Linked DNA regions of Homo sapiens. The protein of the gene in region 1 purifies or fractionates together with the protein of each later gene. This does not show direct contact. Each region holds a gene or a part of one and is shown in the gene's direction. Other genes may lie near its edges. The genes, in order: ME2, NFASC, KDM4C, IDH3A and YTHDF3.

Evidence for each region.
Region 2: the proteins of ME2 (region 1) and NFASC fractionate together in Homo sapiens (co-fractionation; one large-scale study listed by BioGRID). This does not show direct contact.
Region 3: the proteins of ME2 (region 1) and KDM4C purify together in Homo sapiens (affinity purification with mass spectrometry; one large-scale study listed by BioGRID and IntAct). This does not show direct contact.
Region 4: the proteins of ME2 (region 1) and IDH3A fractionate together in Homo sapiens (co-fractionation; one large-scale study listed by BioGRID). This does not show direct contact.
Region 5: the proteins of ME2 (region 1) and YTHDF3 fractionate together in Homo sapiens (co-fractionation; one large-scale study listed by BioGRID). This does not show direct contact.

What each region holds. Positions count from the first base shown.
Region 1 is NC_000018.10:50,880,154-50,886,878, forward strand, and holds part of ME2 (NAD-dependent malic enzyme, mitochondrial isoform 1 precursor), read left to right. Parts: intron 1-6,725.
Region 2 is NC_000001.11:204,825,986-204,833,335, forward strand, and holds the start of NFASC (neurofascin isoform 1 precursor), read left to right. Parts: upstream 1-2,666; 5' UTR 2,667-2,690; coding exon of another isoform or gene 2,691-2,797; intron 2,798-7,350. UniProt on the Homo sapiens protein: Cell adhesion, ankyrin-binding protein which may be involved in neurite extension, axonal guidance, synaptogenesis, myelination and neuron-glial cell interactions.
Region 3 is NC_000009.12:7,168,862-7,175,586, forward strand, and holds part of KDM4C (lysine-specific demethylase 4C), read left to right. Parts: intron 1-936; coding exon 937-1,029; intron 1,030-5,691; coding exon 5,692-5,868; 3' UTR 5,869-6,725.
Region 4 is NC_000015.10:78,166,362-78,169,479, forward strand, and holds part of IDH3A (isocitrate dehydrogenase [NAD] subunit alpha, mitochondrial precursor), read left to right. Parts: intron 1-1,106; exon of another isoform or gene 1,107-2,014; coding exon of another isoform or gene 2,015-2,124; exon of another isoform or gene 2,125-2,560; coding exon 2,561-2,644; 3' UTR 2,645-3,118. Other genes in the region: long-chain-fatty-acid--CoA ligase ACSBG1, read right to left, coding at 2,015-2,124. UniProt on the Homo sapiens protein: Catalytic subunit of the enzyme which catalyzes the decarboxylation of isocitrate (ICT) into alpha-ketoglutarate.
Region 5 is NC_000008.11:63,209,954-63,213,286, forward strand, and holds the end of YTHDF3 (YTH domain-containing family protein 3), read left to right. Parts: 3' UTR 1-2,833; downstream 2,834-3,333. UniProt on the Homo sapiens protein: Specifically recognizes and binds N6-methyladenosine (m6A)-containing RNAs, and regulates their stability. M6A is a modification present at internal sites of mRNAs and some non-coding RNAs and plays a role in mRNA stability and processing.

The sequences.
Region 1 (6,725 bases):
ATTGCTAGTGACAGGCAGAGCGCTAGTTTCTACACGGATTATCTCAAAATAACCCTTTGAGGTTGATACTGTTACTGCCTCCACTTTACAAACCAGGAAACTAAGGTTTAGGTAGGTTAAGTAACTTGCCTAAGACCACAGTTTTAACGTGACAAAGCCTAGATTCAAACTCAAGTGGTCTAACTTCATAGCTGCATCCTCCACCCCCACTCCCTTAAACGTGTATACTCCTTAAGCATTGCTCATGTTGTTAAGCTAATTGCGATGTTGTACCCATAATTTTGATTTTCAATTTACAAATACTCTGTAAATTAGATGAGAGAAACAGTTGTTTTTAAAAACATACATATAGGCCGTTCGCGGTGGCTCACGCATGTAATTCCAGCACTTCTGGGAGGCCGACGTGGGTGGATCACCTGAGGGCAGCTAATTTTTGTAATTTTAATAGAGACGGGGGCTTCGCCGTATTGGCCAGGCTGGTCTCGAACTCCTGACCTCAAGTGATCTACCCACCTTGACCTTCCAAAGTGCTGGGATTACAGGCGTTAGCGACCGCGCCTAGCTCCTAATATGACTTTTATCATGCATTAATAGGAAATGTTGGGCTATGCTTCTGTAGAAATATTCTCTTGAGAATAATATATTTATGCTTAGTAGCTATTTCTGAGAACTGCTTATGGGTGACACCCTTAGAGGGTGTTTATATGTTTTTGTCTTTTAATATATTTATGAAAACAAAATATTCATAAAGGAAAAAACCCATTTACCATTTGGGAACTTCTTTTGTAAAATTAAAAACTTACAGCTATGTATGTATAATCTGTATATTAAGTTAAAAACTCTAATTGATTTTGGTGAATTTCAGACAAACTAGACATATTTTATTCTCTTTAAGACGGAGTTTTGCTCTTGTTGCCCAGGCTGGAGTGCAGTGTTGCGATCTCCACTCACTGCAACTTCTGCCTTCCGCGTTCAAGCGCTTCTTCTGCCTCAGCCTTCTGAGTAGCTGGGACTACAGGCATGCACCACCATGCCCGGCTAATTTGTGTGTGTGTGTATTTTGAGTAGAGACAGGGTTTCACCATGTTTTTCAGGCTGGTCTCGAACTGCTGACCTCAAGTGCTCCACCTCCTTCGGCCTCCCAAAGTGCTGGGATTACAGGAGTGAGCCACCATGCCCGGTGAACTAGCCGTATTTTAAAACACAAATAACATTAAAACCTATATTTACTAAGGATTAATATTACAGGACAAAATTCACACTAAATAAAAATTACATTGACTTTATAAAAAGATAACTTTTATTAGAAATTAACTATTTTATTTGAAAGTTACGATTTTGATTTTATGGTGGCATATTGTACCTCCTTTGATCAATATGTACAAATTTCAAAAGTGATAAAAAATATATTCTGTATATACTTGTTTAGGATGACATTTGATGTTGCCTGTATTTGTATACCATCCAGATTCTCATTCTTGACTTTGAGATTTGATTTGAAATATTTTGAATAAATGTTAATCATGATTATCCTTATAGCCTCTTATATTAATTTGATCATTAAAAGATGTTGATGCAGAAACAAGCAGGCATTTAGAAGGCACCTTGTGACCACCTTAGTCTACAACTACTAATAGTAATGCTTATGATAACTAGCCTTTCTAGAGCACCTAGAGGGCATTGTGATAAGCATCTTAATGAATTATCTAATTTAAATCTTAAAATAGCCTATTAAATAGGTCTTGTAGTTTAACGTTCCCATTTTACTGATGAGAAAATGCAAATTGGGGAGGTTGTGATTTACTCAGCATCACAGAGCTAGCAAATGGCAAAGCCAGGATTTATTTTGTTTTGTTTTTGTTTTTGAGAGAGGGTCTCACTTTTACCTAGGCTAGAGTGCAGTGGTGCTGTTATGGTTCACTGCAACCTCAACCTCCCATGCTCAAGCCATCCTCCTGCCTCAGCCTCTGAAGTAGCCAGGACTGCAGGTGTGTGCCACTACCCCCAGCTAGTTTTTAAATTTTTTGTAGAGATGGGGTTTTGTCATGTTGCCCGGGCTGACCTGGAACTCTTGAGCTCAAGCAACCCACCCACCTTGGCCTCCCAAAGTGCTGGGGATTACAGGTGTTCGCCACGGGATTTAAATCCAGGCAGTTTGACTCCAGAACTTGCCCTTTGACCACTCTGCTAGACTATTTCGTATGGGTTTTTTAAAGCAAACTTTGAAATCAAGTAGTCAAGCTCTTTATAGTGATGCTATTGTAAAGCTCTAAAGGCTTGACACTATTAATAATATGTATATATCAACATTACTACACAGAATTCTGCAAGTTTCCCCTCCCCCACTTTATTGATGAGAAAAATGAAACATCTAAGTCAATGGCTTCCAGACTTTTGGACTTTGCCAACAAGTAAAAAACTGTTATGTGTGGGGGACAATTGGGACCAGACGTAAGATCTCCAACTTTTATTTCTGTCAAGGTTGAGAATCTTCTTAAACACTACTGCAATCTGGTCAGGCACATTGGTTCATGTCTGTAATCCCAGCACTTTGGGAGCCAGAGGTGGATGGATCACTTGAGGTCAGGAGTTCGAGACCAGCCTGCCCAACATGGTGAAACCCCGTCTCTACTAAAAATACAAAAATTTGCTGGGCATGGTAGCACACACCTATAATCCCAGCTACTCAGTAGGCTGAGGCAGGAGAATCGCTTGAACCTGGAAGTCAGAGGTTGCAGTGAGCTGAGATCACACCACTGTACTCCAGCCTGGGCGACAGTGATTTTTGAGACTCTATCTCAAAAAAACAAACAAAAAAACTACTGCAATCTACTGTCCTGATCCTTTCCTTAAAAAAGGGACATTTTTACCACCACAAAGGTAGGAAGGTCATAGTTACAACATAAAAACAGAATAAATTTAATATTATGAAAAACTATATTACATTGTGTTAGTTTTTCCTCCTTTGGTCATAGACCAGTCAAAAACATGTCCTAAACTAACACCAATTCAGAGATCATTCAGGAATGCCTGGGTGACACAACTGATTCTGAACTGGTAATTAGCTGAGTCCAGTCCAGATTCACTCTCCAGTCTGTCTGACAGCAAAGCCTGTGCTTGTTGCCCTGTCATGAGCTCTTTCTAGTGAACAGTGTCTAGGGTTTTGGTCTCCTGTGAACAGTCTTTCTCAGGTGTTGACTATTTCCTTCTCCCTCCAGGTAGGGGGCCAGGGAGAATAGTCTCCAGCAGCCAATGTCTTAACAGCTTTAGTCCCAGTCCAGTTTGTAAATACCACCCAGAGGGTGAGTTCCACTGCTTCCCTGTTTGAGGTAGTTCTTTTGTCTGTGCTTACTCATGGAAGGGGCAAGGCAGTGACCATACCAGGGCAAGAAACCACGGGCATATTCCAGTATTCAAGAAACTCTCCTGCTGGGTGTGGTGGCTCACACCTGTAATCCCAGCACTTTGGGAGGCCGAGGCGGGCGGATCACCTGAGATCAGGAGTTTGAGACCAGCCTGGCCAATATGGTGAAACCCCATCTCTACTAAAAATACAAAAAAGTAAACGGGCATGGTGGTGGGCACCTGTAGTGCTAGCTACTCGGGAGGCTGAGGCAGGAGAATTGCTTGACCTAGGAGGTGGAGGTTGCAGTGAGCCAAGATTGTGCCATTACACTCCAGCCTGGGTGACAGAGCAAGACTCTGTCTAAAAAACAAAAAAAGAAACTCTCCAGTAAATAGCTTGATTTTACTTAGTCATTCAAAATTCGAATCCCCACCTTCTTTTATTTCCTGTTTTTACTTCACTCACTCCTATAGTTCTCCTTCTGTCATCTTTGTGTAACATAAGGAGTTAGGTGTGTGTTTTCCTCGTTCTGTCTTGTCTCCAGCAGATATTAAGCCCACCTGTCTGTTTCTGTCTGTAAGTGTTCTAAGTTCCAATTTCGGCAAAGATTGTTTTTTTCCTTAAGTTTTTTTTTAATTATGCCTACTAAAGACACTATTAAAATTACTTTTATATTTTATTTTACTCTATCACTTGCTAATAAAATTATCTAATAGTTTGAATAATATATGTTTTATCTTTAATTATAATACTCTTTTGCATATATTCTCTCATTTAATCATCACAGTTTTCTATGAGGTAGATTTGAGAGGTGGTGTTATCTTTATATACAAGCCAAATTCATTATTTTATTTATTTGTTTATTTTGAGACAGAGCCTCAATCTGTCATAAGGCTAGAGTGCAGTGGCGTGATCTCAGCTCACTGCAACCTCTGCCTCCTGAGTTCAAGCAATTCTCCTGCTTCAGCCTCCCGAGTAGCTGGGACTACAGGCACGCACCACCATGCCCGGCTAATTTTTGTACTTTTAGTAGAGACTGGGTTTCACCATGTTGATCAGGATAGCTTTGAAATCTTGACGTCATGTTCCACCTGCCTCGGCCTCCCAAAGGGCTGGGATTACAGGCGTGAGCCACTGCGCCAGGCCCAAATTCATTATTTGATAGGAGCAAGATTTTAACTAGGAGTTGAAAATAGAAGATTTCGTATATCAGCAACCTGATCTTAACTACTGATTCCAAAATGTATTTTTTGGGGATTGCCTTTGATTCAAAATAAAATGTATTCCATACCATTTTAGATTTGCCTACCTTGCAGTACTAATCACCAAAGTTTGTGTGTGTTTGTGTGTGTGTGTGTGTGTGTGTGTGTCTGAAACGGAGTTTCGCTCTTGTTGCCCAGGCTGCAGTGCAGTGGTGCAATCTCGGCTCACTGCAGCCGCCGCCTCTCGGGTTCAAGCAATTCTCCCACCTCAGTCTCCCGAGTAGCTGGGATTGCAGGCGCCGGTCACCACACCCAGCTAATTTTTTGTGTTTTTAGTAGAGACAGGGTTTTGCCATGTTGGCCAGTCTGATCCCGAACTCCTGGTCTCAGGTGATCTGCCTGCCTCAGCCTCCCAAAGTGCTGGGATTTCAGGCATGAGCCACCACGCCAGGCCCAAAGTTTTAACTGTAGTAAATAATGCTATCTCTCCTGGAAGAGCCACATAAACATATGATGAATTCTTTTAGAACTTCTTTTTAGCTGGGTGTGATGGCTCATGCCTCTAATCCCAGCAACTCACAGGCTGAGATCGGACGATTGCTTGAGGCCAAGAGTTCAAGACCAGCCTGGGCAACATAGCAAACGCCAGCTGTACAAAATATTAAAATTAGCCGGGCACAGTGGCTTGTACCTGTAGTCTCAACTACTTGGGAGGCTAAAGCAGGTGAATCACTTGAGCCCAGGAGTTCAAGACTGCAGTTAGCTGTGATTATACAACTGTATTCCAGCCTGAGTGACAGAGTGAGATACTGTCTCTAAAAAAAAAAATATATAAAACTTTTTTTAAATGACAATTTATAAAATTTAAATGGTTTTTTTTCATCACTTAGCAGAGTATCAACCATCCCAATTTTGTTAATAATACTTTTGTCACCATGTTGGGGATTCTGGGGAGAAAGCTACTTGGTATATATATATATTTTTAACACTGTGCTGCTATAATTAACATTATTATTCATATGATACTGATTAATAATTTTTAAAAGTGTAGAAACATGTATATATAATTTGTACTTTTAGAGCCAACTGCTGGTACTTTCTGCAGTATAATAATAAATGGAAATAAAGTGACATGGAGCTTTTATGCAAGATAATCCTGAAAAGATGTATAAAAGTCAAATTTGAGTAACTTAAAATTTAAAAATAGCCTGAAAAATCTTGCTATTTAAAGAAGTCCAGTGAAGAATTCTCTTATATAGCAAATTCTCTCTCTTAAAAATAAAATCAATGGAGTTTGCTCAAAGCAGGCTCTACCACTGTTTCTTCTTTTAGATTGTACACATTTAATAGATATCCATTATTAGATTCAGATAGTGAAGACAATTCATAAGTACACAATGCTGGTTCTATATATATGTGTGTGTGTGTATATATTTATACTATATACCCACACAAATTTAAAATTTAAAAAAAAAGGAAAACTTGGGAAGCCTATACAGGTATGTGTCTATTTTTTAATTTAAAATTGAGAAAGGGTAAGTTAGATTTTTTTTTTTTTTTGAGATGGAGTCTCACTCCGTTGCCCAGGCTGGAGTGCAGTGGCATGATCTCGGCTCACTGTAACCTTCACCTCCCAGGTTCAAGAGATTCTCATGCCTCAGCCTCCTGAGTAGCTGGGATTACAAGCACGTACCACCCTGCCCAGCTAATTTTTGTATTTTTAGGAGAGATGGGGTTTCACCATGTTGGCTAGGCTGGTCTTGAACTCCTGACCTCAAGTGATCCGCTCACCTCAGCCTCCCAAAGTGTTGGGATTACAGGCGTGAGCCACTGCACCTGGCCAAGTTCTTTTTCTTGGTTTTGTTCATGTTCATATTTCTTTTAAAAAGCACAAAGGAGAGCTTTATTTAGGACTTTATAACTTACTGGTAATAGAACATTAAGAGAATACTGCATGGTGGTGATTTAATAGATTCTGTTTAATGCTTTTGATGTTTACCTAGAGAAAACCAAATCTGGCTGGATGCAGTGGCTCACACCTGTAATCTCAGCACTTTGGGAGGCCAAGACTGACAGATCAATTGAGGCCAGGAGTTTGAGACCAGCCTGGGCAACATAGAGAGACCCCGTCTCTACCAAAAATACAAAAAATTAGCCGGGCATGGTGGTGCATGCCT
Region 2 (7,350 bases), on another chromosome or scaffold:
AGACTACCTGGTTTTGCCCAAGACCCCCAGGTAGATAAAGATACTCTTATCAGGTGAGATAACCAAGGACTCAGAGATGACCTCCCAGGAGCCAAGGACAAAAGTCAGATCTCTCTAGGGGCAAAGCTAACACTGTACCACACCCCATCTGTGTGATGCTGTACTCTTATTAACCTCACTGGGCATCTATTTCCTCATCAGTAAATTGGGGACAATGATCCCCACCTCACTGGGGTTTCTGAGGAATGAGTAACATAATATATGCAAAAGGCCTAGTATGTGAAAGGCTTCAACAAAAATTAGGTCCTTCCTAGTAAGCTTAAGGGCCTTTGCTCTTATCTTCTAAACTAGCCCAGGGCATTATTCCCTCTTTCCTCTTCTTCCCACCCTGTCTCCCAATTTGCTTTCCCTTTTCCCCCAGAAAAGGATAATACCTTTATTCCCTGTATGTCATTATTAACTTGCTTTTTAAAAAACAAATGTGTGTGTGTTATCATTGTTATAATTTTTAAAACTGTGCTATTGCATGGATTATTACAATGGATGTAATCATTGTCCTCTTGAGCCGCACTGAGTATCCTTGTGCATACACATCTTTGTGGATTGGGCCAGTGATTCTGCAGGCTGGATTCTTTGAGGTGGCATTGATGGGTCAAGGGTGTCATTAAAGTCTTGATGGTACTGCTGTATTGCTCTCCCAAAAAGGCCATACCAAGTTAAACCTCCACCAATGATGCACGAATCTGCCAGTTTCCCCACACTTCCTAGGGACCAGTGTGGAAGAGGATGGCTTCAAGTGCCCGAGACTCATACCTGGGGCTTTCTCTTGGTCTGAGCCCAGGATGAGGCAGGGCTTATGGAATTTCATTGGGAGGAATGAAACACTAGGGAATGTGAAAATCCTGTGACTTGCCATTCACCATGACAGAGGACACAGTGAGTGAGGTTTCAGGTCTGGGTTGAAAGTCCATGCTTGCTGAGGGTTCCAGCCAGAACTAGAGGTGCAAACCCAGGGAAGAAAAAGAAGCAGGAAGGCCAGATAAATGTCAGGAAAGAAAAAGAGCAACCACTTTCTGCCCTCGGTCCTGAGTGAGTCTGTTCCTGACACAGCAGCAGAACAGCCTGCAAGGTGCGTAGGCTCTTCTTAGTCCCCAGAGTCCATCACCAGCAGGGGGTGCCTCTCCCTCCATCAGGACTTGCCTGCAGCTCTGGGACACCACCGAGGCCAAGGAAACACCTTCACCCTCAGGGCCTCTGGGGGTCACCATGCTCCCTTTAGGCCCACACTTAATTTCTTTATACTAAGGCCATGAAACTTGAGTCCCAGTTCAGTTTCAACCACCAAACCACTGTGTGGGGTCCATCTCTCTAGACCTTCGTGTATTTGCTGTTTAAAAGTAATGAAGAAAGGGGAGGGAAGGCTGAACAATAATTAACATTTGTAAAGAACAGTTTGGTTCAGTACCTTATCTCATTGATGCTCACTCTATGCCCATTTTACAGATGGGAAAAAGAAGACTTAGAGAGGTTAAGTGAACTGCCCAAGTTTACCCTGCTGGTAAGCCAGGACTTTCTTGGCAAATCCTGTGATCCTTCAACTTGACCATATTAGAAGATTCTAGTATTGGTGAAATCTAAAACTTGTAGGGCCCATCTTAAAATAGCAAAGTAGTTTTAACTAGGCACTGTCAGATGCATCTGGGCTTTGAATTATTACTTGGGCAGGTTCCTTGAACTTTGGTGTTCTCATCCAGAATAAAAGACAGTGGTGCCAGGGTAGGAGCTATGAGCACAGAGAAAGTAGCCCTTGAATGGGGCCACAGAGGGATGCTGCAGGGGACTGTAGTTTTGGATGAGGAGCTGAACTAGAAGCTTCCAAGTGCTCTTCCAAGACAAAGATTCTATGATTCCCTAACTGGGATCTTTCCACTGTTTCAGGTGATAATTCTGAGCTCAGATCCTGTGCACAGAACCTAATGCAGTCTTCGTGTCAGAGCTAGAAGAGACCTTGGGCGACCACCCAATCAACTTTTCATGGTTCAGTTGTGGAAACTGATGTCCACAGATAAATGTCTTGCTATCATGTCAGATAGTTCTCCAGCCACGACTGAGGCCTGAGTCCCCCTAGGGCAGAGGAAATCTCCCATTTCTAAAAGAAAGCCCCGCACTGTTCATAGCAGTCACAACCTCTCTCACATCCCTGAATCAGGATCCAACGACTTGCCAATCAACAAATGTTGCTGGAGAGTTTACCACAAACAAGTCTCTGTGCTAGGCCCTGAGAACACAAGCTGTCCGGCAACTTCCTGCTCCCTAAAGTCACAGTCTATGGTGGAGGTGCAAACAAGCGATCCTGTTGGGGCTTCAGGGTACTTCCTCCTGTGTGCTTTGCACGTAGTAGGTGCTCAGCGAACGGAAACGGGGAGACTAGTTATCACTCTCCAGGCAAGCCCGCAAAGAGGCCTCAGGTGAAAAGAGAAAGGAGGATTTTTTTTTCCGGCCCTGGCTCTGCGCACCGCTCCCCAGCGCGCCAGGCGGGGCTGCGTCCGGAGCATCCTTCCCTCCGCCTCTGTCCTGGTCCCCGCTCAGCGGCCGCTAGGAGCGCGAAGGGAGGGGCGCGGGGGCGCGCACGCAGGGTGTCGGGGGCGCGCCGGCCGCCCGGGGACGCGCACGGGCTGGTCTCTGCCCTAATGCGGCGGCTGGCGGCGAGAGGCGCTGCAGGGGACGCGGGGGAAGTGGCGGCGCCGGCAGCGGACAGCTCGGACAGCGCCCAGGGCCGGAGCCCGAGCCCTTGGAGGTAGGCGAGCGCGAACACCGGAGAGATGGGGGTAGAGAGTCATGGAAACCCACCTAGCGACACCCCCTTGTTCCCGCCCTCGTCTGTCTCCATCCCCTGACCTGCCCCCTCCCCCTCCGTCCACATTCCCATCCCTTCCCCTCTCCACACTGTCACCTGCCCCGAATCCATCCGATTCTGTTCGTATGCCCACCCCGTCCCCGTCCAGCTCCCAGCCCCCTGCCCACCCCAACACCCTTTCTATCTCGTTGGCCGCGTCCCCTCCCCCTTCCCGCATCCTCAACCCTTTCCCTTTCCTCTCTGTCCCCGCCTCATCCGTGAGCCCTGCCTGCCCTTGTACTTCTGTTTACCTCGACACCCCACTTTGGATGACCCCATGCCTCCTGTATTTCCTACCGCACACATCAGCCCCTTCTTGCCTCCCCTATTCTCTTCCCCATCTCATGCCCCTACCAGTTGGTGTCCTGTCTCTCCATTTGCTCCCTCAGTTTCTGTCCTCCCCTGGTTCCCCCTTGCACGCCCTGTCCCAGCCCCTTCCCAGCTGCCTCTTGGTGTCCTCCTGCATCACAGTCCCTCTCAAGAACCCCGCCTTCTCCCCCCTTTGGCTGTTAGCTGGCCTGACACCCGTCACCTTCCCTAGCTGCCCTTCCTGGTGCTGTGTGGAGCCATACAGCCTGTACCCAGCCCTCCCTCAGTGGCCTCTGGACCCCCCTTCCCTGGGTGGGGATCTTGGTTGTGGAATATAACCCCTTTCTGCATGTTCGATCCTATTTGTGGCTTGGGGAAGAATGCTGGGGGTTAGTAGGCCTCTCTCTTATGTTCCTCTCCAGCCATGCAGCCACTCTACTCCTCTAGCTGTTCAGGTTTGTTTCCTAGATGGATTGGGGGAGGGGGTGCTAGGCATTGGGAAACTAGGATGGGGAAGGGGCAGGGTCCAGGGGAATGACTGAGCAGACTCCTCCTGGGGCTTGGCCTGAGCCCTGATGTAAAGGCCTGGATGAGGAGCCCTGCTGGAGGGCTGGATAATTTTGGATTTTAGAAAAGATTCTGCTTCAGCCTCCAAGTCAGCACTTTGGCATCTGGAGCTGTCATGAGTGTGGCCCATGGGCTGGGCCAAGAGTGGGCAGAGTGCTGAATCACCTAGAATCTGGTCCCCATGGCAGCCCCCATCCTGTCCTGAGCCAGGTTCTGCTCCTGACTCCTTCCTTGGCATTTTGGCATGGGGTGTGTGTGTGTGTGTGTGTGTGTGTGTGTGTGTGTGTGTTGAGCAGAGATGCCTCATCCCTCAGTGTGGGGGAGAGGACAACAATACCCCTTTTCTGCCTGCCTGTGTCCCTGGCATGAGGGCCTAGTGCGTCTCATCTACCCTTGGAAATGTGCTGGGCCCTGCTGGGCCTCAGTCAAATCTCCAGCAAGGCAAGGGCAAGCCACAGGGCTTTGAGACCTGGTTGGACAGGAGTTTAATTGTTTGTGTGGAGCCAAAGCCAGCCTCAGAGCCCACAGAACTTAAAGCAATAGGAGAATAGCCCAGGGAAAATGTGTGTGAAGAGTGGAAGCCTCTGGGGATAGGGGCCATACCAGCTGTGAGGTGGGGGCAGTGGAGGAAGGCAGGCAGAGATCTATCCTCCTTCTGGTTTGGGGATGATTGGATGTGGTGGAATTGCATTGCAGGAAGAATTGAAGGAGATGGGGGCCTGCTACGCAGCTAATACATTTCACCTTTTGTCTTGACTGAGCTGGCACTTCGGAGGGAGTAATTTCTCCCCTTGTCTTTGGATTCAACTGAAGGGGTGTGTTGTGTGTGTTGTGATGTGTGTGTGTGTTGTGATGTGTGTGTGTGTTGTGATGTGTGTGTGTGTTGTGTGATGTGTGTATAGAGAGAGAGAGAGAGAGAGAATTATGCCAGTAAGGAAAGAGACTCACTCCCACTTAGCCCCAGAAATTGTGGTTGCCACTGTGGAACAGGGAATGGCAGCCCGATTCCTGTCTTAGGGGCTTAGACGAAACCCAGAGGCTTAAATTGAGGCGTTAAGAGCGAATTGCAGACAGACTCTGTCCCTTCTCTGCAAGGCTTTCACTTTAGGAATCCAAGTGACTGGACTCCTTCAGCTCCTGTGCAGTAAACTCTGAATGGGCCTCAGGCAGTGCCTGGCAAGGGGATGTGCTGCTGGGGGCACTGGCTGCACCTTGCTTTGTCACCCTTCTCCGTCGCCTCTCCAGCGTGAGAGGGGGTGGGGCTGGAAGCTTTCCCTGGCATCAGTGCCTAAGGGCTGCCAGCTTTTCCTGGTACAGGGAGAAAGCATTACCTGCAGCCGTTGTTGAGAGCTGATTGGATTAAGGTCCTGATGTTGAAATGCTTGACTGGAGCTCAGGTGAAGTGGGGGATTCTAATAACAGTGTACATATTTCCCAGTTTTGTGCAATGAATTTCACCCCTCACCCCCTTGTTTGGCATCAGAAAGAGTACGGAGAAATAAACCAAGGCACACGGAGGGAGAAGCCAGCTCCCCAGAGAGCTGGAGCAAGACCTTCCAATTGTACCTAGCCAGCTCCCTGTGGGCTGAACTGGCTGCGCTCACAAGGGCTGGTTCTTTTAAGGCACACATTGAAGAGGTGGCTGAGAGCTGGGGGTGGGGTTCTGGCTTTGCATTTCTGGGGTGGGTGGGCCAGAGGAGGGTCTGATTTCTGTGGTGAGTGAGAGACAGGATGCCAAGGCTCTGATCAGTATATTGCAACTTGTTTCCTACCTCTGGCTCCACTCTTCTCCCTCAGGCTTTTTTGGAGGCCAGAGGCACCCTGAGATCTTCAAGACCATGGAGGAGCTGGAGTGTGAGAATCATCCCTTTGTCTTTAGAAAAAGAAATTCTTAGGAAATCAGAGAGGGGGAAGCAGAAAAATTCAGTTCTCAGTCTGTTTGCCTGGGGTGATGTTTGGGGTGGGGAGGGGAGAAGTGAGAGGAACGTAAGGCCGGTTTCATACTTACTCATTTAACAAAGATCCATTAAGCCCTACGGTGTGCTGCTCTGCTAGGTGCTGAGACCATAGAGATGAAAAGTAAGCTAGGGTCCAATCTCTCCGAGCTCCTGGGCAATGGAAGAGGAAGACAGGTGATCAGACAAATAACAGATAAGCTTGAGCAAGAGCATCCGGATAGGGATGTTACACAGCGGGATCTTTAATTCCAGTGGTATCAGCACCCTGCTCTCCACAGCTATGAAGAGGGCTTGGCTGATGCTATCCGGAATGGTAGCTCAGGGCTGACCCTGAAGTTGACTCTCAGGAAAAGGGTAGGGGACAAGATGAGGTTCAAGGTGTTGTCAGATCCCCAGCTTGAAGGGCTAGAGGGGTAATGTTCTGTGTGAACACCTGTGTGAACAAGGTGAACCCGGCTAGATGTGGCTAGAACCTGATAGGGGAATACCCAAAGGGAGCTCTGTGATGAGGTCGAGGCTGCTTAACTCTCCCAATCCCATCTTCTAAGCTCTTGTATTTTAGGGGTAAAGTGTGGCTGGATATGCTTAGAATGTCAGTGAGTCAGAGGAAAGAGGCTCTGGGAGCTACTCGTGTGTAGGCAAGATGCACAGGGATGTGCTGAGAGGCAAGGCGAGGAAAAATATTGTGAGGACTGCAAGGTTCACACACCTGCAAGGTGTGTGAAAGGATTTGGCATTATGGGGAGGTCAGAGTCAGGTGGGAGTCATTGATGGGGAGGGCAAGTTGTTGGTAAGCAGGAGAGGTCCTTAGAAGCTATACACTTGACCACAGATTCCCGCAAATATCCATAGCCGAAGTGGGAAAATAGCCTAAGGAGAGAGACTGTCAGTTTCATCTGTCTGAGTAGCCCCTCTTTTCCCCCACACACCCATTTTTGTTCATTTCATCAATGTATCCTGAGCCTTTGAATCTGTCAGGAGCTGTGCAAGCTATTGGGCATGTAAGTCAAATTGGAGACACAGAAATGAAACCAAATTAAGACTCAGCACAAGAACTGCTATAATTGAGGTTAGATGAATTCCTGGTGTTGTAGGAGCATGGCTGAGGGGTCATAGTGAGCAGTAGGATCTGGAGTGATTGCACCAAACTGTCTGGACAGACCCCTGCCTTGGCTTGAGCAAGTTGATGACAAACCTTTGGGCACTTACAATGCCCAGCTAAGGCCCAGGTCTAGCTGCAAGGGCCCAGGCCTAACTGTAAGGGCAGATGTTGGATGCATATGGCCTGGTCCCTGGACTGCAGAAGAGGGCCTGGGAGTTAATGGCTGTGCGGGGTGCTTGAGTAGGCACTTCCACAGCTTTGCTGACCCAGGACATTGGTTAGATTGTGCCAGCTTGAGAACTCTCAGGCCACCCTTTTTTCATTAGGTCTTGAGGCAAGCCAGAAAAAAATAAAAGTGGCGTAATAACAATAGTCACCATTATCGAGTTCTTTCTATGTGCTAGGCACCCTACTCTATGCTTTATATGCATCATTTCATTTCATCCTCAAAGGGTTAACCCTACAAATGAGATATTGTTAAGTTGCTGGTTTTACAGAAAATGACAGATTCAGAGAAG
Region 3 (6,725 bases), on another chromosome or scaffold:
CCTTATCTCTACTAAAAAACTACAATAAAATAAAATAGCTGGGCGTTGTGGCACACAGCTATGGTTCCAGCTTCTCAGGAGGCAGAGGTGGGAGGATTGCTTGAGCCTGGGAGGTTGAGGTTGCAGTGAGCTGAGATCAGGCCACTGCACTCTAGCCTGAGCAACAGGGCAAGGCCCTGTCTCAATTTAAAAAAAAAAAAAAAAAAAGGAAATATATTATCTTTTCTTTCACAGAGAGAAACAATTCTCCTTGTTACGTTGTCAGAGCCTCTTAAAGAAATGAACCGTGCTGACAGACCCAACCCATTTTAATGCTGAATTTCCCACAGTCTCATGTTTTGTGATTTCCATTTGATCAGCAGCTACTTTTCTTTGTTGTTGCTTCGCCAGATAAAGTTTTCATATCCTGTATTCCAAGACACTCATTTCCAAGAATTTTGGCCTGTTTTGAAATGTATTTTGTATTTAGTTTATTTATTTATTTTTTTGTTTTGAGACGGAGTCTTACTCTGTCACCAGGCTGGAGTGCAGTGGTGCGATCTCAGCTCACTACAACCTCTGCCTCCCAGCTTCAAGCGGGTCTCCTGCCTCAGCCTCCTGAGTAGCTGGGACTACAGGCATGCGCCACCATGCCTGGCTAATTTTTGTATTTTTGTTAGACAGGGTTTCACCATGTTGGCCAGGATGGTCTCGATCTCCTGACCTTGGGATCTGCCTGCCTCAGCCTCCCAAAGTGCTGGGATTACAGGCGTGAGCCACCATGCCCGGCCTCTACTTAATAAGGGAAATAACTCTTCTTACTTCCTTGGTTGTTGGCTGGTTCCCTTGTTTGTTCTGTTTGAGTCCTTTTCATCTTTTCATGTAGTTAATTGGAGCCTTTAAAAATGGTCAGTGCTGTTTTTTTAATATGTATCATGTTATATTATCTTTCATTAGGTTGAGTTTGAAGATGGATCCCAGATAGCAATGAAGAGAGAGGACATCTACACTTTAGATGAAGAGTTACCCAAGAGAGTGAAAGCTCGATTTGTAAGTGCTGGCAGATGCCACTTGGGGACCTGCCAAGTGAATTCCTTGTCCTCACCTCATGTTTCCCAAGCCCAGCAGGAAACATACTTGGGCTTTTGGATTAATTCTAAAAAAAGCCAATGCAACATTTTCCTTAGTGGAACCTATTGAATGCAAACTTCAAATTCAACCAAAATCGGGGAAATTAATGCATGTGCTTTACTTTTCTTCTAATGAAGTCACATGATGCTTCTTTGTGTTGACATTTATTGGTGCACAAAAATACTTACTGAATGTGTGCTCTGTGTAAAACACCAGGAGCAAACAAAGATACCATCAAGGCATTTGCAATCTTGTTAGTAGAAGCAACATTAAAAGTATTCAGGAGTAGATCAAAGGGGACTCGGCATAATTGAATGTCTGTCTATTCTTTTATAGGTTTTTCATGGATTGACTACCTTCTGTCTCAGAAAGTTACTGATGTTTGTGTCAGTTCATCATTAAGCTAAACTCTGACTTTCATAATAAAAGGGATAAACAAAGCCTAAATGCTAGTTGTGGGAATACTAAAGCAGTTTTTTAAAAAGGAAATAGTAGTTTCATGCCCTCACATACCATTAAAAGATGAACAAACATGGACAAATATTCAAAACTGCAGTCATTGAAAAATATAATTCACAATAATTTAGACTTCATATTATTGTATCATAAAATATTCAGTGGACCCTGAAATGAAGTCAGTTTTATTCATTTAGAATTATATCTATTGTGTCTGTGAAATGATAAATCCTAAATAGAGAAATTTGAATGGATGGGGTTTTTCTGACTAAAATGAAATTTTTTTTCTGAATAATTCAGTTTAGTGAGTGCTTATGATATACTTGTCTGCAGTGATAGAGTCACTATAGATTATTTGGTTATTTTGGAAAAACCAAGGGTTTTCTTAAATCAGGGATGTCCAATCTTTTTGCATCCCTGGGCCATACTTGAAGAAGAAGAATTGTCTTTGGCCTCACATAAACTACACTAACAATAGCTGATGAGCTACTAAAAAAAAAAAAAAAAAAAGCAAAAAAAAACTCATAATGTTTTAAGCAAGTTTACAGATTTGTGTTTGGCCGCGTTAAAGCCATCCTGGGTAGCATGCAGCCGGCGGGCCATGGGTTGGACACGCTTGCCTTAAACGTTCAGTTGTGTATGCAGCTTTTTTCCAGTCAGATGGGATCCTGACAGCAGAGTAACTGCATCAGGTGGGAACTGACTTTCCTCTCAGCTGCATCCTTCAGAGGAAGGTCCTTCAAAGTGAAATCGTCAAGAGGAGTGGTGGTATTGCTGCCCACTCGATGGGAAATGTGGCTCAGAGGGGACCCACACACCTGTAAATAGAGTAACTACTAGATAATGACAGCAAGCAAAGAAAAAATTAAATATTCCTGTTGTAAAGATACCAGCCAAATCTTACCAAGACCGAAAAACCTTAGATGACTTGTCGCTGTTCTGAGACCTGAAATTTCTTGAGAAAAACTTTCCTTTTCGAGATGTTAGAGATAGCTTCGTCTCGTTCTGTATTCCTGTCTTCCTTGGACTCCCCTCTTCCCTGCCTTATTCCCAGCTCCTCCCGCTCCTTTCTTTTCCTTTTTCAGCACCTAGAGATTTAGAGGATGGGGAGTGGAGTAGGTAGCCTCTCAAAGTCTCTTGGGTCTTTCATTTTCTAATCGATGTATGACTAAGCATCCTACCAGCTGAGTCTTGTAGATTTCAAATACTGTTTCTTAATCACATGAGAAGAAAGCTCATTGCTTTCATACTCTGATCACAATCTCTTTGTTTCACAGTAGATTTCGCTCAGATACCAGGATGCCTTCCCCTGTGGCTGTCTCGGAACACAGGTCCTGGATTTTCTAAGGTCTATTTCACTGAACAAGCTCACCAACATTCAATTTTTTTTTTATTCTCTGAAAAAATTTTTAATTAAAAAAAAAGTGAAAATATGTAAATCACATCCATACACTCTGAATGCAGCCTGCTATTCTGAGCGGCTAAGCCAAGTAGAAAATATCTTAGGGAACAAAGGCTCACGGTCACTAAGTCCTGTTGGCCACCTTTATTGAATCAAAGACATACACAGTCTTGTCGTAGCCAGCCTGTTTCTCCCCTGGGTTGGTACATAGCCCTCAGACCCTTGGTTAGTCTGTCCATGATTATTACTATTTTTTTTCCAGTTGGCAAAACAAATCTAATTGGAAAACTCATTGATGGAAGATGTTTTATGGTTAGAAAAGTCTTTTTTGTTTTTTAAGGATGGAGGTTAGCCGCCCTTGTCAGGAGGCCTTGTATTTTAATGACTTCGGCTCACCCAGACACACGCTGACTGGGGGAGAAACTGTTCAAAAGAGCCAGCAGTCCACCTCAGTGATTGTGTGGGGTTCTTTTCCACTCACTTCAGAAGCAGCCCCGTTACCTTTTATTGTCTCACAGAATAACCATAGCAACGGTGCATAATTAGCTAGAGCTCCTGGTAAATCGGTTTTATTATTGTATTTGAGAGGCCGACTTTTGCTGTTTCTGCACAGTGGCAACACTTTCATAGATGTTTTATTTTCTTCTTTGATAACTTTAGCACTTACACAAGTGAAAGATTACTCAGAGGAAGTATTTTGCCAAGAATGAATGAAACAAAAGTGTTTTCTCCTAATGGCAGAGGGAACCCAACCAGCCCATAATGATTTAGTTTTCTTCTCTAGTGAAACTAGGTGGTATGTGGGGGAAGCCGTGGAGGTGGCCTGTTACCCTGAGTAACTGTCCCATGAACTGGCTGGAAACATGAACAGCTTTACGCTTCGGTACATTTTTTGTTTTCAGGCTTCCTTGTGGCTGTTTTCTTGTTTTTCTCTTCTTTACTATGGACCGTGTGTTTTCAAGTCCTAAAGTGTCTTTCACCTCTGCCTCTGCCAGCAGCCAGGGGAAGCAGTCTCAGCACAGTGAAATGTGCTGTGTGTTGATGTCATCAGAAGTCATCCACCTCAGTGAAAACAGCTGCCAGTGCATTTTAGGAGGCAAGATAGTAGGGAATTGGGAAGCAAAAATAGTGCCTACCATAGACTTTAGGCTTTATCTGATTATCACAGAAAAAGCCACATGCCCTCACTCAGCAAACACTTACTGAACAGCAGCCAAATACTAGCCACATTGTTTGCTGTGGGGAACACATGTAAAATTGGGTACACAGTCCCTAATATCCTCACCTTTATGGGGTTCCCCTGATGGGGAGAAACTTACTTGCCCCTTACCTCTACCACTGCCCTCCTCTTACTGAGTGGATGTGTCAGGGCCACAGGAGTCCCAAAGAAGGACCCTTAAGCTTGCCGAGGGCAGAGACAGTAGAATAGAATAACTTTCACAGAAATGAAACAGTGTGTCCAAAGACAGAGAAGCATGGGGCCCTGAGCCAGGCAAGTATGACCAGGCCCTGCAACTGATGCCGTCTGAGCAGAGCACGGGGCAGGCTTCTGGCCAGGTTATGTAGGTCTAGCCTGGGGAGTGGGGATGTCATCTTGAAGGCAGTAGGTTGCTGGAAAATTACAAGCAAGGGCATATGATCATGTAGAGTCTTATAATAAGAGGGCTTTTAGAGAGCTTTCTTCCAGTGGTACTGTGGGAAATAGGTTGGAGGTACAGCATTTATTGCAGTGCTTTGCAGAGGTGAGGGCCTGCCCCATAGGGTAAGGATCAAGAAGAAAGGCTGAAGGGCTTCAAGGTACATGCAGGAGGAATCCTGGACACGGTGGGGAAATGTCTACAGTGCCTTTAGGTTTCTGGCCAATGTAACTGGGTGCATGGGCATGGTGGTGCCTTTTATGGAATGTAGGAAGGACAGCAATGAAGAAGGAAGGCTTTCAGTTCAATTTAGGACAGGTTGATTTGAAGGGCCTCTGAGACAGGGACTTTGTGATGCCTGCTGGGGAAATGCACTTACAGGCCTGAGCTGGAGCAGATGTGAGCATCTCCTGCAGACACTGAAGCCAGGGGTGTGGGCACAAAGGCCCAGGGAACAGGAGTGGAGAGGAGAAGGCCCAGTGCCAAACCTTAGGGCATCGTAGTTGAGCAGATAGTTAAGAAAGGGAACCCCTGAGACATCAAAAGTGAGCAGCCAGAGAAGGAGAAGCAGGAGAGTGGGTTTACAAAATGACAGAGAAGAGAGCTTTAAGCAGTAATTAGTTGGCAGACTAGTCAAGTCAGTTTAGGGATAGGAAGGTGTCACAGGAATTAGCAACTAGGACTTCATTCAGCAAGAACAGTTTCAGGGAAGGGGTGGGGCAGAGGCCCAAAGCTAAGTAGGAGTAAAGGTAACTTAGAGATGACTGTTGACATTTGTCAAAAACAGAGGGGAGATGAAAAATGAGGGAAGTTTAAAACGAGAAGACTTTAATCTTGCTTTTGTTTGGGGAAGGTCCCTGGGGTTGGAGGGTGGGGAGATCCTGGAGAAAGTAGGGCTAAATGGAGCCCCCCACTTTGGGTGGGAGAGGCGAGGGAAAGCCCAAAGCCATGCCTGGGGCCCTTTTAGCCTGAGCTGGTGACCTGGGCATCTGCACCCTAACCCCAGCTGACCGAGTCAGATCTTTGTCCAGTGTTCTGAAGATCAAATGCCGTGCCCTTTTGCAATATAACACCAGCTGCTTTTAGTCCACAGCCTCTGACATGCGATTTGAAGACACGTTTTATGGAGCAGACATTATCCAAGGGGAGAGAAAGAGACAAAGAGTGCTGAGCTCCAGGTTTAAGAATGAATATGTGGCCGACCCTGTATACCGCACTTTTTTGAAGAGCTCTTTCCAGAAGAAGTGCCAGAAGAGACAGTAGTCTGCATACATCGCTGCAGGCCACAGAGCAGCTTGGGTTGGAAGAGAGAAGATGAAGGGACATCCTTGGGGCTGTGCCGTGAGTTTTGCTGGCATAGGTGACAGGGTGTGTCTCTGACAGTGGTAAATCGGGTTTCCAGAGTTTGGTCACCAAAAATACAAAATACACCCAATGAATTGGACGCAGCAATCTGAAATCATCTCTAGTCTTGCTTTCACTTGTGAGCAGTTGTCTTCTATGATCCCAAAGAAGTTTTCTAAGTGAAAGGAAATACTAGTGAATCACCCACAAGGAAAAGCCACTGCCACAGAGGAGGCGGGTCCCCTTGTGCGGCTTAGGGCCCTGTCAGGAAACACACGGGGACCTCTCTCTCTAGCTCCAGCAGGTGGCACCTCGGTACCCAGCGGGTAGGGCGATAATTTATATATTTTCCACAGTCAGGGAAGGACTCTCACTTATTTGTTTCAAATTGCAGTTTTTATAAAACATTTTTAAAACACAAATGGCATGTATGCTAATGAGATTTACCCGTGTGCTATCTGTATTTCCCTTGTACAGAACTTTTACATTTTTGAATATTCCTATTACTTTTGATTGTGTCTGATGGGAACTGAGTTGTTGGCCTTTGTGAAATGAAATTTTTGGCTCTTGAGAAAGAATTCTTATGAATTGTTATGCGAATTTTATATATTTAAAGAGGGAGATCTGGGGCTGTTATTTTTAAACACTTTTTTTCATAATACATATTCCGAGTAGATATTTATAAAATATATGTTTCTTTCATTATGTGTTTGTAAAATTAGAGTTTAAATAAATATGCTTTGATGCATAGTTTTGAACTAATGTAACATGATTTT
Region 4 (3,118 bases), on another chromosome or scaffold:
CTGAGTGAAAGGGACAGTGACAGATAATAGTTCTCAGGCGGGCCCAAGCATTTGATGTTGAACAAGGATTCTTAACGTGGGTCCCAGATTGAACAGGGTATGTGTGCACATGTGTGCATTTTCTGAGGTGAGGATCTAGATATTTCATCCAAAAAAAGTTAAGCAGCACTGATGTATAGACATCAGTGTACAGTGGAAAGGTCAGTGGTTTGGGAGGCAGCATCAGGTGCACGCCCAATTATCCTATTGTTAGCTGTGTGACCTTGGCCAAGTTCATTGATTTTTTTTGAGACAGAGTCTTGCTCTGTCACCCAGGCTGGGGTGCAGTGTCATAATCTTGGCTCACTGCAACCTGCACCTCCCGGGTTCAAGCAGTTCTCCTGCCTCAGCCTCCCTAGTAGCTGGGATTACAGGCGTGTGCCACCACACCCAGCTAATTTTTGTATTTTTAGTAGAGATGGGGTTTCACCATGCTGGCCAGGTTGGTCTCGAACTCCTGAGCTCAAGTGATCCTCCCGCCCCAGCCTCCCAAAGTGCTGGGATTACAGGCATGAGCCACCACACCCGGCCAAGTTCATTGATTTTTATAGACAACTTTTTACTCTTCACAACAAACGTCTGTTGAGTGTACCTTATAAGGTGTGAAGAGTAAAATGATGAATAGGGTAAGATGCTGAGCCTCAAGGAGCTGGGAATCTAGTGGCAGATACAGATGCAGATGTACCTCTAATACAATAGTCTTATATGTTACACTGTGTGCATCTATAATACAAAAGCAATACAGAAGTTTTATAAAAGTAATAACTAATATTAATTGAATACTTATGCAACTTTTAAGTTCTTTATATATCATCTCAGCAAAGTTTTTCTATAACTCTTTGAAGTAGATGCTATAATTCCATTTTATAGATGAGGAAACTGAGGTACAGAGAGAATAAATAATATGTCCAAGGTTTTACAGCTCCTAAATGACCCAAGTTGGTATTAACACGCAGTCTGGGCCTTACCCAACAAGCTCCACCGCCTCGGTAAGCAATTGTGGCCTGTGGAAGAAGTGTCGCGGGCTATTCCGAAGTTAGAGGAAATAATGCACTTGAAGACTCATCCCTAATTTGAGGTCCTTTTTAACAAAAATTGTGAAAAATATGCATAACATAAAATTTGCCATTTTAGCCGTATTTAGGTATACAGTTCAATAATGTTAAGTACATTCACATTGTAATGTAACCATCACCATCAGTCATCTCCAGACCAGTTTCATTTTCTCAAACTGAGACTCTGCACCCGTTAAACAGTAACTTTCCCTTCCCCCTCCCATCCTCTGACACCTGCCATTCTGCTTCCTGTCTCTATGAATTTGACTACTCTAGGTACCTCATGTAAGTGGAATCATACAGTATTTGTCCTTTGAGTCTGGCTTATTTCACTTAGCGTAATATCTTCAAAGTTGGTCCCTTCTTTTAAAAAAATTCTGTAATTTGAAATTATATCGTGTGGCCAAAATACAAGAAATTCAGGCTTGTTTTTAACAGCCTGATAGTCACATTGGAGGTCATATGATTTTCTTATTCTTTAAAGTTATATTTGGGAAGTTATAATCTACAGCCCAGTAGAGAGGTGCCTGAATTACATAGTGGGCCCTTTTATTGTGTAGGATGGAAAGATAAAGAGAATTAAATATATTGGGGTCTGTATGCAGGAAAGAAAGGATAAGCTGGTAGAACAGATCAGTTGTATGGGAGGCTTTCTTTCCTAAAGAGGGAGGTTTAAGAGTTAATGATTTAGGCAGGTGTGGTGGTGCATGCCTGTAGTTGCAGCTATAGGCTGAGGCAGGAGGATCACCTTAGCCTCTGAGTTCAAGACCAGCCTGGGCCACATAGTGAGACCCCGTCTCTTAAAAAAAAAAAAAAGAGTTAATGATTTAAATATTTCTTTCGTATTTGTGTCCCAGCCTCCAAAAATAGATCAGATACAAAAATTAGTTGGGTATGGTGGCATGCACTTGTAATTCCAGCTATTCAGGACGCTGAGGCAGGAGAATCGCTTGAACCCAGGAGGCAGAGGTTGTGGTGAGCTGGGATCGTGCCACTGCACTCCAGCCTGGGCAACAGAGTGAGACTCCATCTAAAAAAAAAATAATAATAAAAACAAAAATAGATCAAAATATGTCTCAGGTCTATTCCTGAGACATATTTCCCAAGGATTTTTATGAAACTTCTTATTTAGATTCGCTTTTATTTAAATATCCATGACCAACTAATCTGGGTTAGGGTCTATTGTGTGAACAAAGGGAAAATTTTGGTAAAGCTCCCTGCCTCCCTTTGCATCAAGAGCACCTTATTCTTTGCAGAGTGCTGTTGTATACACTATGAGATTGGATCCCGATCCTCCTGGGCTGGGTAGATGGTGGTGGAGTGGTTCCTCACTTTGAAATGAGGAACTAAATGAAAGAGCAGCCGAGTAACTTGCCCAGGTGGCATCTCACTGAGGGCTTTAAAATCTCCTTGGTTTAGTTTAGTTTGCGGATACATCTTTTATTTTTGCTTTTTCCTTTTCTCAGAGCTTGACAAAAGATTTGGGAGGCAATGCAAAATGCTCAGACTTCACAGAGGAAATCTGTCGCCGAGTAAAAGATTTAGATTAACACTTCTACAACTGGCATTTACATCAGTCACTCTAAATGGACACCACATGAACCTCTGTTTAGAATACCTACGTATGTATGCATTGGTTTGCTTGTTTCTTGACAGTACATTTTTAGATCTGGCCTTTTCTTAACAAAATCTGTGCAAAAGATGCAGGTGGATGTCCCTAGGTCTGTTTTCAAAGAACTTTTTCCAAGTGCTTGTTTTATTTATTAAGTGTCTACCTGGTAAATGTTTTTTTTGTAAACTCTGAGTGGACTGTATCATTTGCTATTCTAAACCATTTTACACTTAAGTTAAAATAGTTTCTCTTCAGCTGTAAATAACAGGATACAGAATTAACAAGAGAAAATGTCTAACTTTTTAAGAAAAACCTTATTTTCTTCGGTTTTTGAAAAACATAATGGAAATAAAACAGGATATTGACATAATAGCACAAAATGACACTCTTCTAAAACTAAATGGGCACAAGA
Region 5 (3,333 bases), on another chromosome or scaffold:
GCTGTCTTTTGTAATTATGCATCCTAGCTAAGGCACAGAAGACTGAATGAATGCAAGGATTCATTAACTCTTTGAATTTGTTAAATACTAACAGTTAACCATTAGAAGTGGTTCAATGATGTAAGAGTCACACTGCTTCAACTTTTTCTTTGTTGTAGTTTTTAAATTGTCGATTTTTAGCTATTTGACAGATTAAAAGCAAAATAATCATGCCATATTTAGTCCTGGAGTTCAAGTCTAAATGTTGATGTGAAAAATTATTGTAGTAAACTTTTAATATGGCAAAGCAACCTTAAGCTCTATTTTAGCCAAATGAAACATAATCTGAAATTATATTAGAACATTTCCCTTGTCTTCAAACTGTTTGGTGTAACAGAATATTGATATGCAGCTTGGTGGATTTCACCAGTTAATGCACATTCTTCTTCCCTCCTCCCCCCATTAATATGTATACTGAAAAATGTGCATTTGTCTGAGGAATTATTTTGTTTGCTACCACTTAATGAATCTCAAAATTTTGAGTAAATGTACCTCAGTCTAATCAGACTTTTTATGACCTTTATAACTACATTTAAAACCCTTAATTCCTATTTCTGGGTGTTTGCGAGCCTGATTGCTATCATGAAGTAAAAATTTATTACTCTAGGTATTCACTAGCTAAATAAACATAGTTCTTGTTTAGCAAGCATATGTTGTTCCTCAGCTCTTTTCTCCAGCTTTTGCAGTGTCCTGGCATCCTTAAAATACTTTGAAAATATGGCCTTGATCCATGGATTAAATCAGTATCTAAGTGAATGTGTTGATGTTTTATTGATCAGATCTATATAAGTGGGAATACAGCATATATCTGGATATTCTTATAGTTATCTTTTTAACATCTTATTTTTTTCATTAATTACATATCAACATTAATTTTGTATCTTGAAGCAAATTGATTTTGTATAATTAAATGTGTCAAGCATCTGTATTAATTGATTTGATGGCATAAGGTTATGAAAATAATGTACTGCCCCATGTATTACTGTTCCAAAAGGAGAAAGCTATGTAGAAAGATACATTAAGGGTGAAAATAGCAATACAGTAGATTTGAATACCTTGATGTTTTGCATTACTTCATTTATGTTTACATCATGTTTAGAAATGTTTTCATTTACTGTGGTCTTTGGTCACTTCAGCTCAAAGACCTAGTGATGGATATTTCTTTGAGGCTTTCATTTATATAATTTTATTTTGTACAATGTTTTTTTTAAATGTGCAAATACTGTATTCAAGTGAAAAAAATACAGTATTTGTAGATAACCATAGCTACTACACAGTTCTTCGGTAGTCCCAGTGTAGTTATATCAGTGTTTACTGAAGGGAACATCAAAATATTAATGGTATATTATAAAATAAAGACTTTCTTAAAGGAAAATTGCACCTATTTTACCTTTTTAAGAGTAAGCCATGAAATCTTGTAACATGTCTCTTAACTATTTATAATGAAAAGTGGCATTTGGGTATAGTCACCACAGCAATGTTCTACATCCCTAAGATTATCTAGGTAGGACATGTCAAAGATGACTGTTGTCATTCTGGAGGTCCTATTAGAGAATATTATAAAAGGGTGACCTTGTAGGAAGGATCTGAGTCCTCCCCCTGAGGTTCTCTTTTTCTTGGTGCTTTATTAGCAACTCTGGATATTTTTATAAAACTAGTTACATTATAAACGGTTTCAAACATGTTTAATTTACATTAGGTTTTTATGTAAGAGTGTCATGGAAGCACTCAGCAAGCAGGCTGATTGCAATAGACTCAGACATGCGAATAAATGTAATTGAGAGTCTATTCATGGTGAGGAGTACATCCCAGTGCCTTTAACCTGGATTTCTAATCTTAAGTGAAATGGGTGCAGCATTCCTTTGGAAAAAAAAATCTTTTTATTTTCAAGTGATAATTTTGTGTTTTTCTCATATAAGTTTTCTCCAGAGCACCCACCTTCTCTTCCTTCTTGGTCTGTCATTATATTGCAAAATATTTTTCCTCTGAATGAAATTATCACAGGTTGTCTCAAGCACAACCAACTGAATGTCTCTTAACTGTGGGGACCAAAAGGGAGAGAGCCTGGGGTCTACAAGAGGAGACACATCATCAAATGTTTGAATGATCACAAATTAAGACATTATCAGCCCAGTAAATTTCTTGCTTAATGTTTTTCCAAGTTCTGGCTTGAATATTTCTTATTAAAGCTATCTTATGTGGGTATTTTATTTTGAAAGGTATTATAGTTTGTATATTTAACAGTAAGGAGGAAACTGTAACCAAAATTAGTATTTCTCTATACGTATTGGTACTTGAAGATTCCTTTCAAAAGAAATCCAGCGTTTTCCTAATTTTAGTACTTAATTTCTCTTTTTAATTTAAGTGATCTTTCTAATTCGAAAGCTGTGTTCTTTTTGAATACCGTGCATGGGGGTTAAGCTGATGTTAAAACAGTTTGCAATAAAAAAAAATGAATCAGCTTAAGTCATTTAATCATTTCAAGTGCATTCTGCATCCTTTAAAAATAAGTTTAAGAAATTTAAGAGAATTGTGTTTTCATTAAGTTTTGCATATCTTTTGTTATGCCATGTAAATTCCCTTTTTCGTATGATTAAAGGAAGGTTATGATAAAATGATTAGTTCATTTACATTCACTTGTAGCAATTACATGAGAATTTGAATTTTGTCGTGTTTGGGTTTGTTCATTCCTGTGAATGATGGTACAGTTAGGTGAGATTTTCTGTTATGGTACCCAAACTCACCATTTGGTCCTCTTTAATCTTTGAGGGTTTCAATAAAAATTGTTCACTCATATCTGTGTTCTTTCCATTTTATCTTCATGAATATGTATTGCTTGCCAGAAAACGTAACATTTTTGCCTACTCTGTTATGGATTTCCTGATTGACATATCTTTCACGTACAAATAGATTATATCACTCCTTCTGGTTGACTTTAAATTAAACAGAGCAGTTAATCAGAGGGAGGGTAACAGTTTACCTTATTTTTTATCCATTCCAAGGAGCTTATTGACTTACATGCTTTTAATACTAAGTTTAGAACAAAAGAGAAAGAGAAGGCCTGTTTGTTTTTTGTAGCAGGAGGAAATAGTGGCAGCAGCTAATAATCCTAATCCCCCACTCTTGGTACCAAGGAATGTTTTTCTGACATTGTCTGCATTACCTCTTGGGATTGATAGTTTATGTGGATAGGATCATGGCAACTCTGGGTGATGCACTGATTATTGCTGGGCTCTCTATCTAAGGTATTTGTTCAGATAGGAAAATTACAGAATTGTTTTGTGTTGTCAAAAC